Linked DNA regions of Homo sapiens. The protein of the gene in region 1 purifies or fractionates together with the protein of each later gene. This does not show direct contact. Each region holds a gene or a part of one and is shown in the gene's direction. Other genes may lie near its edges. The genes, in order: DELE1 and EIF2AK1.

Region 1 (7,681 bases):
AAAAACAAAATCCCCACTAATAAAAAGCAAAAGCAAGAGGAGCTAGTACTAGTATCAGTGCTGAGGTGATGACTCAGCTTTCTCAGGGCTGAAGGTGAGGTCACTGGCCTAGAAGGCACAGGGTGAAAATGAGGGCTTGACCCCCACTAATACAGCAGCCAATAGCCTTTCTTGGATCCCTCTGGCCTGGTCACTCCCTTGCCAAAACCCTTCCTAGATGTCTCGTGCCTTCAGGACAGAGTCCAAATGTTTTACGGGCTTACAAGGCGTTATGACCTTGCGCTATTTACCTCTCCAGACTAAAGGCCTATCACCACCCCATCGCCATGACTCCATGCCTCCCTCCCGGCTCCAGCTACAGTGATCTTAAACTGTGCTTTCTTTGCCTTTCTGGAACTTTGTATCAGTCAGCTGTGTCCCCTGCCTGAACTGGGTTTCTTTTCCTCTTCTTCACCTGGTTAGTTTCCAGGCCTCATCATTCAGGTTAATTTAGCATCACTGCTTCCAGGAAGTCTTCCTGACTTCCATGCCTAGGTTATGGGCCTTCCCTGGGTGTTCCCATAGCACTCTGTACTTTCTTCACAACAGCACTTGCTTGTCTCCAAAGTCTACTTCCCAGTATTTGTGACCTTATGTTTTCCCCTCCCACACTGATTCTGGGCTGACCCTGTGAGTTGCTTTAACCAACAGAGTGCAGAAGTGATGCTATGCCAGTTCCTGCCAGCTTCCACTTGTGTACTTTTGGAAGCTCTGAGCCACTGTGTAAGAAGTTCAGCGACACAGCTGGAGAGGTCATGTGGCGCAGAGGGGACCTGAGACTACATGGAGAAAGAGGCCCAGCCTTTCCAATGCCCTACTTGAGTCTTCATATGACTGCCATCTGACTACAACCTCATGAGAGACCCCAAGTGAGACCAGCAGAATTGCCCAGCTGAGCCCAGTCAATTTGCAGAACTGTGAGAGATAATGATTGTTTTAAGCCACTCAATTTTGGGGTGTTTGTTATGCTGCAATAAGTAACTAAAACACCACTCTGTATTTTAATTGCTTACTGACTTTGTTTGCACTCCTAGGCTATTTTCTGTGAGGGCAAGGACCACATCCATGTTTTGTTTTGTTTTGTTTTAATTTTTCCTCAAGACAGAGTCTTGCTCTGTCGCCCAGGCTGGAGTGCAATGGTGCGATCTTAGCTTACTGCAACCTCTGCCTCCTGGGTTCAAGTGATTCTTCTGCCTCAGCCTCCCAAATGGCTGGGATTACAGATGCGCACCACCACGCCTAATTTTTTGTATTTTTTTTAGTAGAGATGGGGTTTCACCATGTTGGCCAGGCTGGTCTTGAACTCCTGGCCTCGTGAACCACCCACCTCGGCCTCCCAAAGAGCTGGGATTACAGGCGTGAGGCACTGCGCCCTGCCCACATCCATGTTTTAAAATTGTTATATACTTAGCATATCCTTTAGCACTAAATAAGCTGTCATATATTTGATTAATGCAAATTAAGAATGCCTACAAAAATGAAGGCAACAAGTATCTAGAATACTCACTGTAGTGACAGTACACAAAGTACACAATGGCATGTGTAGTCATCATGAAAGGTGATTAACTGGACAGCAGGCAATAGGTTCCCAGTGTCAGTTTACCTTTGTGGAGGATTGAGTCAACTTGAGGGACTGTGTAGAGGGACTGAGCCACAATCCAAAACCACAGAGTTTGGGGTCTGGCAGTTGAGGCAGCTGCCATTCAACCAACAGCACTCCCGTGAGCTGCACTCAACAGGTGATCTGCTGTGGGCTCCAGCCACCCTCGCCATCTACCCTCACACAAGTGGTCTGATGTTTCTGTTTATGGGGACAAGAGATGCCATAATGCCATTCTATACATGGGGGCAGATGTCCTAGTCTCTCCTTCAAAACTTTTCAACTAGCTTCAAACAGGGAGGGCCCTCAATGAATGTTTGTATCTGCAATGAATACATTTCCACTCAAATCAGTAAATCCCCTGGCTGGGGTCTGGTACCCTTGGCTGTAATAATCATTAGTACAAGATGTTCTGTCAACAGGGATTGTTTGGACATATTCTTTGGGCTGACAATTTATGTCAAGCCCTATGTGGGACACGGAATAGGGAAATGCTATTCCTGTCCTGAAAGGAGAGAACTGGGAAGGCTAGAGTTACACAAATGAGATAAATACCAAGACAGCATATAATTACTGCTAAACTGTGTAGTAAGAAATTAAGTGCTATAGGAATTGGGAAAAGTAGGGAGCAGGGAGGGCTCAAACAGTTGAGGAGTCTACACTGAAGAGCTGGGATTGGGCTGAACCTTGAGAAATGACACAAACTATGGATAGTCTGAAAGGAAGGAGGGTACAAAAGACGCAGGAGGAAGAACACAGCCAAACCAGCATACTTGTTTGTTACTTTATTTTCGGGACAGCAACACAAGGAATGTGAAAGGTTGCCGTCCCAAATCCCGAAGCAAGGCTATTTCTGAATAGTTGTCCAACATTCAAACTTCTGGGCCTTTATTTATTGTTTCCTCCGCTTGCAATGCCTTTCTTCCTTCTCCACCTGGCAAGCTCTTATTCACATTTAAAGGCCCCGCTCAAATGCAACTACTTTTCTGAAGCCTTCCAAGGGATCCCACAATCCATTGTTCATGCTTCTATGGGAACCTAACCTATTACACTTGCCTGCTTACCTCCCCTACTAATATAATTAATAGCAACTTACACTTACTGGGCTTTTACTATGTGCCAGGAACTATGCTAAACATTTTTATTTATTTATTTTTTATTTTTTGAAGGGTATTCCCAAAACACCAAGTTAAACATTTTTAACATATTATTTTATTTAAACCTCACAACAATTGCATGAGGTATTTTCCCTATTTTACGGATGAAGCTCTTGAGACTTAGTGTGGTTAAGGAACCTGCACAAGATAACATACCTACGAAGTAAGCAAGCTGTGATTCCAACCCAGATTTGTGGGACTCCAAAGCCCACTACTAATCCACTGGACCGTGTTCCTGGAGGCCACAAATGCTCTTTCCTCAGCTGTCTTCTCAGATCCTAGAACGGGCTGATATATGGCTCAAAAGTTCTTTAACGGCCAGGCACGGTGGCTCAAGCCTGTAATCCCAGCACTTTGGAAGGCCAAGGCAGGAGGATCACCTGAGGTCCAGGAGTTCGAGACCAACCTGGCCAACATGGTGAAACCCTGTCTCTACTAAAAATACAAAAATTAGCAGGATGTGGTAGCAGGCGCCTGTAATCTCAGCTACTTGGGAGGCTGAGGCAAGAGAATCGCTTGAACCTGGGAGGCAGAGGTTGCAGTGAGCCGAGATCACACCATTGCACTCCAGCCTGGGCGACAGAGAATCCGTCTCAAAAGAAAAAAAAAAGTTGTCTAACATATTAATACAACTTTCAAGCCACATGCCTCGGTCTAAAAGTAGGTGCCCCCAGTACACTTTTACCCCAGGTAGCAACTTCCACTCACCTTAAAGTCACATACCTGGAGGAAGGGGATAGGGAGGAAATCTAAACATCTTATACTTGAATGTAAGCTCCGTTATTTCACGGATTCAAATGTGGTGAAAGGAACTATTTTTTTTTCCTTTTTTTTTTGAGATGGAGTCTCACTCTGTCGCCCAGGCGCGATCTCGGCTCACTGCAACCTCCCGTCTCCCGTGTTCAAGCAATTCTCCTGCCTCAGCCTCCAGAGTAGCTAGGATTACAGGCGCCCACCACCACGCGCAACTGATTTTTGTATTTTTAGTAGAGACAGGGTTTCACCATGTTGGCCAGGCTGGTCTCAAACTCCTGACCTCAGGTGATCCGCCCGCCTCGGCCTCCCAGAGTGCTGGGATTACAGGCGTGAGCCACCGGGACCAGACGGAACTATTCTTTTCCACAAAAGAACAAACACATACATAACTTTTGCCACGTCTGAAGACGAGGGTTCTAATAGGGCGCGGGTGGTGTCTCAGGTATTTTGAAAGGAGCTACCCAAGAATCTCAGCTTGTCAGGCCAGTCATTCCATTTGACCCTATCTGGCGCGTATTGGGGCCCCGACAAGGTAAGGGGTTGGCATGAAGCTGCACAGTGAGATAAAGCTGGACCGGAGCTAGAACCCAGAATCAAAGCCTTGCCCTGTGCGGTTTCTCATCGCCTACGCAGTCGGGCCCTGGCCTGGCATCTCCAGGCAGGTGGCCTTGGACGGAAGCCCGGCCTACTGGCTTCATTTGTGGGACCCCGGGGGTCCTCTCCTCCGCCCATGGAGCCTGGTTACTCCCACTTCCTCAAGCCTAGGGCCTGGAGAAGCCTTTCCTGGTTCGCGGCCTCACGGTCTGCAAGGTCCTCTTACTTCCCTGAAGCCGCTCCAGCCCCACTTCCCGAAGGTCCCGCTTCCGGGTGGCTCGCTTCGCCACCTGCGGTCCCCTGCCTCGGCTTGGGAACGCCAAGGACATCCCCCACGGAAGCCTGGGCCCACATCCCCATGCCCTTGCCGCACGTCACCGCCCCGCTGGCCCCGAATACGCCTCCGCCCTGCACTTCCTCTCTGCAGCGCCGTCTTTCCGGCCGGGCTCCCTTCTAATTGGCCAGCTCAGAGCTTCCTCGGGTACTCGGCCACTCGGGGCATCGCGGCGGCCTTTCTAGCCGCTGTCCCAAGGGTTGGTCTCGCGCTTTCGGCTGCGAGCTCTCTGTGGTGCTGGCAGCGACATGTGGCGCCTCCCGGGACTCCTGGGCCGAGGTAAGGGACGTCCAAGCAACCAGCGTCACTCTGGGCCGCAAAGACCGAACTGGAGTGGGGGCGGGCCCGAGGAAACAGCCGAAGCGATCGTGGGCCGGGTTAGAGCCAAGGAAGGCGGGGCTTGAAAGAGGGCGGGGAAGTCAGGGGCTGCTGGAATTTGAGATGTGGATGGGCCTAGCTAGAAGAGGGTGGAGTCCAAGAAGTTGGTAGGACTGTTGGGAGGGGGAGGAGTCCAATGGCAGGAGATGGTGGACTGAATGAATGAAAGAGGATTAGGGGCCAATGGAGTAGGCATAGCCAGTGAAGAGAGGAGAGGTTTAGAGTCAAAGAGCCCCAAACATTAGTGAGAGTATATGTATGAACGTTTGGTCATCTTAGAACAGTGGTTGGCATCCACAGGAGACCAGCAGAATCACATGGGCGCTTTTAAAAAACGTGGATGCTCTACCCTGAGAAATCTTAGTTTATTGGTTCTGGGGTACTACCCTAGAATCTGTAGTAGATAAAAGATTCCCATGTGTATCCATGTTTAAGAACCTCTGCTGAGGCAGATGACAGTGATTCCTGGGTTCTTGTTGAGGTGCCTGAGTTTTGGTTGTTCTGTACAGCTCTTCCCCGTACACTGGGACCTAGCCTCTGGAGGGTGACTCCTAAGTCCACCAGCCCAGATGGGCCTCAGACTACCTCCTCCACTTTGCTGGTTCCTGTGCCTAACCTCGACAGGTAAGATACTGCCATTTTACCACTCATTTCCTCCCCTAGTCACCCTTTTTTTTTATTTTTTTTTTTTTGTTGTTTTTTGAGATGGAGTCTCATTCTGTCGCCCAGGCTGGAGTGCAGTGGGGCAATCTCAGCTCACTGCAACCTCCGCCTCCCAGGTTCAAGCAGTTCTCTGCCTCAGCCTCCCGAGTAGCTGGGATTACAGGCACCCGTCACCACACCCTGCTAATTTTTATTTTATTTTATTTTTTTTGAGACAGAGTCTCGCTCTGTCGCCCAGGCTGGAGTGCAGTGGCGCGATCTTGGCTCACTGAAACCTCCGCCTCCTGGGTTCAAGCGATTCTGCTGCCTCAGCCTCCCAAGTAGCTGGGATTTCAGGCATGCACCATCACGCCTGGCTAATTTTTTTTGTATTTTTAGTAGAGACGGGGTTTCACCATGTTAGCCAGGATGGTCTTGATCTCCTGATCTCATGATCTGCCCGCCTCAGCCTCCCAAAGTGCTGGGATTACAGTGTGAGCCACTGTACCCAGCCAATTTTTATATTTTTAGTAGAGATGGGGTTTCACCATCTTGACCAGGCTGGTCTTGAACTCCTGACCTCGTGATCCACCCACCTCAGCCTCCCAAATTGTTGGGATTACAGGTGTGAGCCACCGCACCCAGTCCCTGGTCTCCCTTTGCCCCTACTTGATAGCCTCTTATTTCATCATCTAGGTCAGGTCCCCATGGCCCAGGCACGAGCGGGGGTCCAAGGTCCCATGGATGGAAGGATGCCTTCCAATGGATGTCTTCCCGTGTCTCCCCGAACACCCTATGGGATGCCATATCTTGGGTAAGGCTTCCCCAGCCTGGTCCTTGACCTTCAGTGTAGATGAGAATGATCCTTCATGGGTATACAGCCGAACCTGGAACAAGGGCTAGGGAATCACTGTGTCCATTTAACAAGTAACCCATGGTATTGGAGCATATTCAAGGAGATATTGCCACTTTCCACACCCCCGCCATGTATGTTTTCCTCATTTAATTCAGTAAACATTTATGTAACACCTTGTCTGGGCCAGGCATTTTTGCTAGTCACTACGGACATAGCAGAGAACAAGATAGATACATTCTTGCCTTCATGGATCTTACAATAAATAATAATACATTGCATCTTTTTTTTATTATTCATTTTTTTTATTTTTAAATTATTATTTTTTTCTGAGACAGAGTCTTTCTCTGTCGCCCAGGCTGAAGTGCAGCGGCATGATCTTGGCTCACTGCAACCTCCGTCTCCCGGGTTCAAGCAATTCTCCTGCTTCAGCCTCCCAAGTAGCTGGGATTACAGGCACGTGCCACCACGCCTGGATAATTTTTGTGTTTTTAGTAGAGACGGGGTTTCACCATTTTGGCCAGGATGGTCTCGAACTCCTGATCTCGTGACCCACCCACCGCGGCCTCCCAAAGTGCTGGGATTACAGCTGTGAGCCACCGCGCCCGGCCTTATAGCATTATTTATTAATGTAAAGTATTATACATGCATTATCTTGTGTAATCCTTACAAAAATCTTACAAGGGAAATATCACCTTCATTTTACAGCTGAGGAATCTCAGGCTCTGAAATATTAGGTAACATGCGTAGGGTCTCATACCTGTTAAGTGGAGGAGCCAGATTTAACTCTGGAGTTCATGTTCTACTGCTTGGTTGCTGCATCAAATACAGAGCCTAGCCCGTAATAGTTGCTCAAAAATATTTGTTGAACCTGATCTATAAGGTCAGATTCTTACTAGTGAACACTAGGTCTCATAGGGCAGAGTCTTCGCTTTTCAGGCAATGTTCCAGGTGGAAGTTCTGCTTATAAGATCTTCTGAATGAAGTTGACACACACATCACTCTCATGTTTGTCACAGCTCATCCCTGCTGCTTTCGTGCTGTGTACTTTGGACAAATGACTTGACCTGTGTGACCCTTGGCTTTCTCATCTGTAAATTGGTGTCATCAGCAGAGCTGAGCCTGGGATGTCTCCATGACAGGGTTACCCCTCTATGGGGAGCTGTGGACTAAGGCCATATCATACCCTGAAGAGAGGAGCATTTTCCCATGTTGCCAAAGAAGATCTGAGCCCTAGGGCTGTCCCATAGTGAGAAGTAGGAAGTGGGCCTGGATTCCAGAAGTCCCAATGCCATCCCTGTGCTCTGTCACTACTGCTCATATGAAAG
Region 2 (7,274 bases), on another chromosome or scaffold:
TAGAGACAGAGTTTCTTCATGTTGGCCAGGCTGGTCTCGAACTCCTGACCTCGTGATGTGCCTGCCTTGGCCTCCCAAGTGCTGGGATTACAGGCGTGAGCCACCGCGCCCTACCTAATTTATGGTTTTTAGTAAGATGGGAGGTGGTACAGGATTTTGATTAGAGGAGTGACACAATCTGACTTACATTTTAGTGGGGTCACACTGGCTGCTGTGTTGCGAATGGACTGAGGGGGCACGGGCAGAAGCAGGGTGCCAGGTGCCACCATACACGCGAGAGAGGTGGGCAGGCAGGAGGGGTGGGGAGCTCCTGCATGGATTTTGAAGGTGACGTCAGTCTTGTCTGCTTGCTGGTCTGTTCTCAGCTTTGAAGTATTTTCAGTTGTAAACTCTTAAGTAATACTGAAAAAGCCAGTGGTTTTTAAAATATTGTTTATGCATTTGGGGTTGTTAATGTGATATTGAATTTTGATAGGTTCTTTATTCCATGCAAGTTTTCAAAATGCTTTTTAAAAACAATTTTTTAATTGTAGGATCCTTGTGAGGATATTTCTCGTATCCAGAAAATCAGGTATGTGTGAAAAACTTTCTTGATTATGCAGACTATTGAAAAGAAATCAAAATTAAGAAAATACTGATTTGAGGTTAAAACATAATATTGTTAGTATTATTTATGAACATTAAAAACTTTGTTCTCAGCAATTAAGTACTGCTCTGAGACTTGCTTTGCTTCTTATTCCCTCCTCTTTGATCCCCTGCCTCTCGCCACTGAGTGTGGATTCCATGGTCACACTGTTAATTCAGATTCCTGATACCCAGGCTCTGTTAGGGGGACCATTGAATTCTCGCTAGTTTAAATACTAGTTTAAAATCTAACTGGTCTGACCTAAATATTCATCAGCCCATGAATAGATAAGCATGTGGTCTATCCCTGCAATAAAGTGTTATTCAGCTATTAAAAGGAATGAAGTACGGATTCATGCTACAATATGGATGAATCTTGAAAACATCCTAAGTAAAAACAGCCAGTCATAAAAGGCCACATATTGTGTGATTTCATTTCTATGAAATATCCAGAGTAGGTGAATCCATAGAGACGTAAATAGTGGTTTTCAGGGAGTGGGGTAAGGGAAGGATGGGGAGTGAAAGCTAATGGATATAGGGTTTATTTTGGGGGTGATGAAAATATTCTGAAATTAGGTAGCAGTGATGGTTGCACAACTTTATGTACTAAAAACCACTGAATTGTACATTTGAGAGAGGTGAATTTGACAGTATGTGAATTATATCTTGATAAAGCACTCTACATTAAAATAAAAATCTAATTGGTCTACATCATTAAGAAATTTAAGAAGCTGCTTATGGTGGTGCATACCCAGTCCCAGCTACTTGGGAGGCTGAGGCAAGACGACTGCTTGAGCCCAGGAGTCCTGGGCTGTAGTGCACTATGCCAGTCTGGTGTCCACATTAAGTCTGGCATCAGTATGGTGACCTTGATCTCCCAGGAGCAAGGGACCACCAGGTTGCCTAAGGAGGAGTGAACTAGCCCAGGTTGGAAACAGAGCAGGTCAGTACTCTGGTGCTGCTCAGTAGCAGGATCACACCTGTGAATAGCCACTGCAATCTAGCCTGGGCAACACAGCAAGACCCTGTCTTAGAAGAAAAATAAATAAAAAAGAAATTTCAGTAATTTTTTTTTTTTTTTGAGACAGAGTCTTGCTCTGTCACCCAGGCTGGAGTGCAGTGGCATAATCTCGGCTCACTGCAATCTCTGCCTCCTGGGTTCAAGCAATTCTCCTGCATCAGCCTCCGGAGTAGCTGGGATTACAGGCACCCGCCACCACACCCGGCTAATTTTTGAATTATTACTAGAGACGGGGTTTTACCATGTTGGCCAGGCTGGTCTTGAACTCCTGACCTCATGATCTGCCCTCCTCGGCCTCCCAAAGTGCTGGGATTACAGGCGTGAGCCACCATGCCCAGCTGAAATTTCAGTAAATTTATTTCTGAGCTTAGCTAACCAACTGCTGGCTGTTAGTGATTCTTAGGATTTCTGCTGTACAACATCGGTAATAATTTCTACTTGGAATACCCGTTACTGGTAAAACACCTGATTTTGTTTTCTTCATAGGGATGAAAAATTTCATTTTAGCCCATCCTTTCCAAATCAGCACAGCTTAGTGATACATGAGGTTTGTGAGGTTAGTAATCCTGTGAGCATGAGGTATCCTAGAACATTTTGATTCTCTCATGTTTTAATATTGATTGTTTGTATTTAACTTTCAGATCAAGGGAAGTAGCCTTGGAAGCACAAACTTCACGTTACTTAAATGAATTTGAAGAACTTGCCATCTTAGGAAAAGGTGGATACGGAAGAGTATACAAGGTTGTCTTCCACGTACTTGTTTTGACCTACTACCCTAAATAATTGTGTTTTCAGATATTGTTTTCATTATTCTTTTATTTATTTATTTTTTTGAGATGGAGTCTCGCTCTGTCGCCAGGCTGGAGTGCGCGGCGCAATCTCAGCTCACTGCAACCTCTGACTCCCTGGTTCAAGCGATTCTTCTGCCTCAGCCTCCCGAGTAGCTGGGATTACAGGCATGTGCTACTACACCCAGCTAATTTTTGTATTTTTAATAGAGACGGGGTTTCACCGTGTTGGCCAGGATGGTCTTGATCTCCTGACCTCGTGATCCACCCACCTCGGCCTTCCAAAGTGCTGGCATTACAGGCATAAGCCACCGTGCTCGGCCTGTTTTCATTATTATTATATAATGTACTCAAAGGAAAATTCCAAGAAATCTTGTATATTTACTTTTCTTTAACATTTGTCATGTACAGGGAAGTGGGCAGTTTGTAATGTTTTTCTAACCGTGTTGATTGTTTACATGGATTTTGGAAACTTTGAATTTTTGACCTATAGTTAATTTTAATTAAAAAATGTGTTACCAAAAAAAGTTGTACTACTGTGTTTTGAGCTAACATACACCTTTTGCTAACATTCCCGTTCTTCAGCCTAGAGCTTCTTAGGAGCTAGACTTCCAACACTATCTGAAAAGCTCTTAGTCCGGCTGACTTCCCTGAACATAGTAAGGAGACATGTCTTTAGCTATATTTTACCTCTTTGGCTAGTTTGGATTGTCTAAGCTCAGATTAAAAGAACCTCTTTATTCAGTTAAAGTTTAATGACACAATATACTTTGTCTTTTTTTCTACTTTTCAGGTCAGGAATAAATTAGATGGTCAGTATTATGCAATAAAAAAAATCCTGATTAAGGGTGCAACTAAAACAGTTTGCATGAAGGTATGATTTTTAAAAATTACTTATTTTGAATAATTGTGTATTTAGTTCTTTTTGAAAGAGTTATACATGTATATGTGTATATTTGGCAAAAGTAGGCGGTGTGGATTTCCAGTTTACTAGGAATGGGGTTATAGTAAAGTACCAAAATTAAATTATTATTATTTTTTGTTTTGAGATGGAGTTTCACTCTTTTGGCCAGGTTGGAGTAAAGTGGCGTGATCTCGGCTCACTGCAGCCTCCGCCCCGCAGGGTTCAAGGATTCTCCTTCCTCCCAAGTAGCTGGGATTACAGGCATCTGCCACCATGCCTGGCTAATTTATATATATATATATATATAATTTTTAAAATATGTTAACTTCTTAAAATAAATGATCGATATATAATATAGCTAGTTATGAAAAAACAGGAGCCCAGTTCCAGGTCAGTCTTCTCCCTGACATGCTGTGTGGTTCTGGACGAGTTGTCCAGTCCTCTGAGCCACTTCTGTCACCTGCCCTGAAATAGTAGTGACGGTAGTGATTTTACTTACCTTGGAGGACTGGGGTAGGAATCAAAAGAGAGAATGGTGATAAGTGTGCCATAAAAAGTATAAAATGCCCTATAAATATGTTATTTAGTTGCTATAACAATTGCCATTTGTTTCTTAAAAATATTTCCATTATATTGGCCAGGTGCAGTGGCTCACGCCTGTAATCCCAGCACTTTGGGAGGCGAAGGCAGGCAGATCACTTGAGGCCAGGAGTGTGAGACCAGCCTGGCCAACATAGCACAACCCTGTCTCTACTAAAAACACAAAAATTAGCTGGGTGTGGTAGTGCATGCTTGTAATCCCAGCTGCTCGGGAGGCTGAGGCACAGGAATGACTTGAACCCAGCAAAGTGATTGCAGTGAGCCAAGATGGCATCACTTCACTCCAGCCTGGGCAACAGAGTGAGACTCTGTCTCAAAAAAAAAAAAAAAATTTCTATTATTTTAACATAGTGTAGATGCCTTGTACAGAGGAGTTTTCATTACAGATGGTCCTCCATCTTATGATGGGATTATGTCCTGATAAACCCATCATAAATTGAAAATATTGTAAATTGGAGATGCATTTTAATATGCATAACCTACCGAACATTATAGCTTACCCTGCCTACCTTAAATGTGCTTCGAACACTTACATTACTCAATAGTTGGACAGAATCATCTAGCACAAAGCATATTTTATAATAAAATACCATATATCTCATGCACCGCATACTGCAAGCTGGAGAAAAGATCAAAATTCAAAGTATGTCAAAAATTGTGATGTCTTCATACCATTGTAAGTCAGGGGCCATCTGTATTTTGCTCTGGAACAAGAAGTATTGCATAAACATTTAACAAGTTATCAGCAAAAGGCAGATCTACTTCCATTTCTTTTCTAGGTCCTACGGGAAGTGAAGGTGCTGGCAGGTCTTCAGCACCCCAATATTGTTGGCTATCACACCGCGTGGATAGAACATGTTCATGTGATTCAGCCACGAGGTAAGCCGTTTTTGATGGTATGGTAGTTGAAGCGTTGGCAAACTTTAGCCCGTGCACCAAATCTGGCCTGCCTTTGTTTTTGTACATACCACAAGCTGAGAATGGTTTTTACATATTTTTTTTTGAGACGGAGTCTCACTCTGTCGCCCAGGCTGCTCCGCCTCCTGGGTTCACACCATTCTTCTGCCTCAGCCTCCTGAGTAGCTGGGGCTACAGGTGCCCGCCACCACGGCCAGCTAACTTTTTTTTTTGGTATTTTTTAGTAGAGACAGGGTTTCACCGTGTTAGCCAGGATGGTCTCGATCTCCTGACCTCGTGATTCGCCCGCCTCGGCCTCCCAAAGTGCTGAGATTACAGGCATGAGCCACCGCGCCTGGTTGGTTTTTACATTTTTAAATAGTTAAACAAAATCAGAAGATTTTGTGAAAATTATGTGAAATTATTTTTTTCTTTTCTTTTTTTTGAGACAGAGTCTCGCTCTGTCACCCAGGCTGGAGTGTAGTGGCGCGATCTTTGCTCACTGCAACCTCTGCCTCCTGGGCTTAAGTGATTCTTCTGCCTCAGCCTCCCGAGTAGCTGGGATTACAGGTGTGTGCCGCCACGCCTGGCTAATTTTTGTATTTTTAGTACAGACAGGGTTTCACCATGTTGCCCAAGCTAGTCTTGAACTCCTGACCTCAAGTGATCCACCTGCCTCGGCCTCCCAGAGTGCTGGGACTATAGGCATGAGCCTCTGTGCCTGGCCCAAAATTTAAATATCAATAAATAAAATTTATTAGAACACAGGCTCTTCATTTATATATTGTCTATGGCTGCTTTTTAAATTTAAAGTTAGCTGGGGGCAGTGTGGCTCATGGCTGTAATCCCAACACTTTGGGAGGCCGAGGCAGGAGGATCACAAGGTCAGGAGTTCGAGACCAGCCTGGCCAATATGGTGAAACCCCATCTCTAATAAAAATACAAAAATGAGGTGGGCATGGTGGTGAGCACCTGTAGTCCCGGCTACTCGGGAGGCTGAGGCAGCAGAATCACTTGAACCCGGGAGGTGGAGGTTGCAGTGAGCCAAGATCGTGCCAATGCATTCCACCCTGGGCAACAGAGCGAGACTGCCTCAAAAAAAAAATTACATTAAATTTTGTTTTAAAAATAGAGATGAGGAATCTCACTATATTGTGCATGCTGTTCTTAAACACCTGAGCTCAAGTGATCCTCGAGCCTCGGCCTCCCAAAGAGTTGGGATTACAGGCATGAGCCACTGGGCCTATGGCTGCTTTTATACCATAACAGAATTGTTCAGTTACAGCAGAGTCCCAGAGGGCCCTAAAACCTAAAATATTTACTGTCAAGTCCTCTGTGCTGTTTGCTGACCCCTCGTATAGTTGCATGGCTTTGTTTTTACGGTTCCTAACACGTGCCATTTGAATAAACTTTTTGTATTTTGCCAGAAGGTCATGACATTTTTAGACTTGTAGTCTCATTTGACACTATTTGTATATTTTAACTCTGTCTTTGACTACAATTTGAAAAACTGGGCTGTTTGAAGATGATTGTTGTTTGTTTTCATTCAGCAGACAGAGCTGCCATTGAGTTGCCATCTCTGGAAGTGCTCTCCGACCAGGAAGAGGACAGGTATGTCCTTTTACATATTAGGACATTACCTCTTGTCACCTGCATTGGGCTTTTGTTCTTTTTTTTGGCGACAGAGTCTCGCTCTGTCACCCAGACTAGAGTGCAGTGGCACAATCTTGGCTCACTGCAACCTCCGCCTCCTGTGTTGCAGTGATTCTCCTGCCTCAGCTTCCCGAATAGCTGGGACTATAGGTGCCCGCCACCACACCCAGCTAGTTTTTTGTATTTTTAGTAGAGACGGGGTTTCACCGTGTTAGCCAGGGTGGTCTCGATCTCCTGGCCTCGTGATGTGCCCACCTCGGCCTCCCAAAGTGCTGGGATTACAGGCGTGAGCCACTGCACCTGGCCTGCACTGGGCTATCTTTGTCTTTTGCTACAAGGAGCTCAGGAGGAGTGTTTTAGACTTTGCTTATTTCCGTTACAAAATGTTAAATTATTTCTTCCTTTCAGATATTTCCTGTCGGTATTTTTTTTTTTTTTTTGAGATGGAGTCTCGCTCTGTCGCCCAGGTTGGAGTGCAGTGATGTGATCTCAGCTCACTGCAACCTCTGCCTCCCAGGTTTAAGCGATCCTCCTGACTTAGCCTCCCTAGAAGCTGGGATTATAGGCCTGCACCACCATGCCTGGCTAATTTTTGTATTTTTAGCAGAGACGGGGTTTTGCCATGTTGGCCAGGCTGGTCTCAAACTCCTGAACTCAGGTGATCTGCCTGCCTTGGCCTCCCAAAGTGCTGGGATTACAGTTGTGAGCCACTGCACCTGGCCTATTTTTTATTATTTTTGTTGAGACAGGATCTTGCTCTTTTGTCCAGGCTGGAGTGCAGTGGTAT

The links.
Region 2: the proteins of DELE1 (region 1) and EIF2AK1 purify together in Homo sapiens (affinity purification with mass spectrometry; 3 studies listed by BioGRID and IntAct, with this or other methods). This does not show direct contact.

The regions. Positions count from the first base shown.
Region 1 is NC_000005.10:141,919,214-141,926,894, forward strand, and holds the start of DELE1 (death ligand signal enhancer precursor), read left to right. Parts: upstream 1-4,657; 5' UTR 4,658-4,728; coding exon 4,729-4,759; intron 4,760-5,367; coding exon 5,368-5,482; intron 5,483-6,196; coding exon 6,197-6,314; intron 6,315-7,681.
Region 2 is NC_000007.14:6,042,104-6,049,377, reverse strand, and holds part of EIF2AK1 (eukaryotic translation initiation factor 2-alpha kinase 1), read left to right. Parts: intron 1-533; coding exon 534-571; intron 572-2,286; coding exon 2,287-2,386; intron 2,387-3,023; exon of another isoform or gene 3,024-3,092; intron 3,093-3,226; coding exon 3,227-3,307; intron 3,308-4,716; coding exon 4,717-4,816; intron 4,817-6,384; coding exon 6,385-6,445; intron 6,446-7,274. UniProt on the Homo sapiens protein: Metabolic-stress sensing protein kinase that phosphorylates the alpha subunit of eukaryotic translation initiation factor 2 (EIF2S1/eIF-2-alpha) in response to various stress conditions.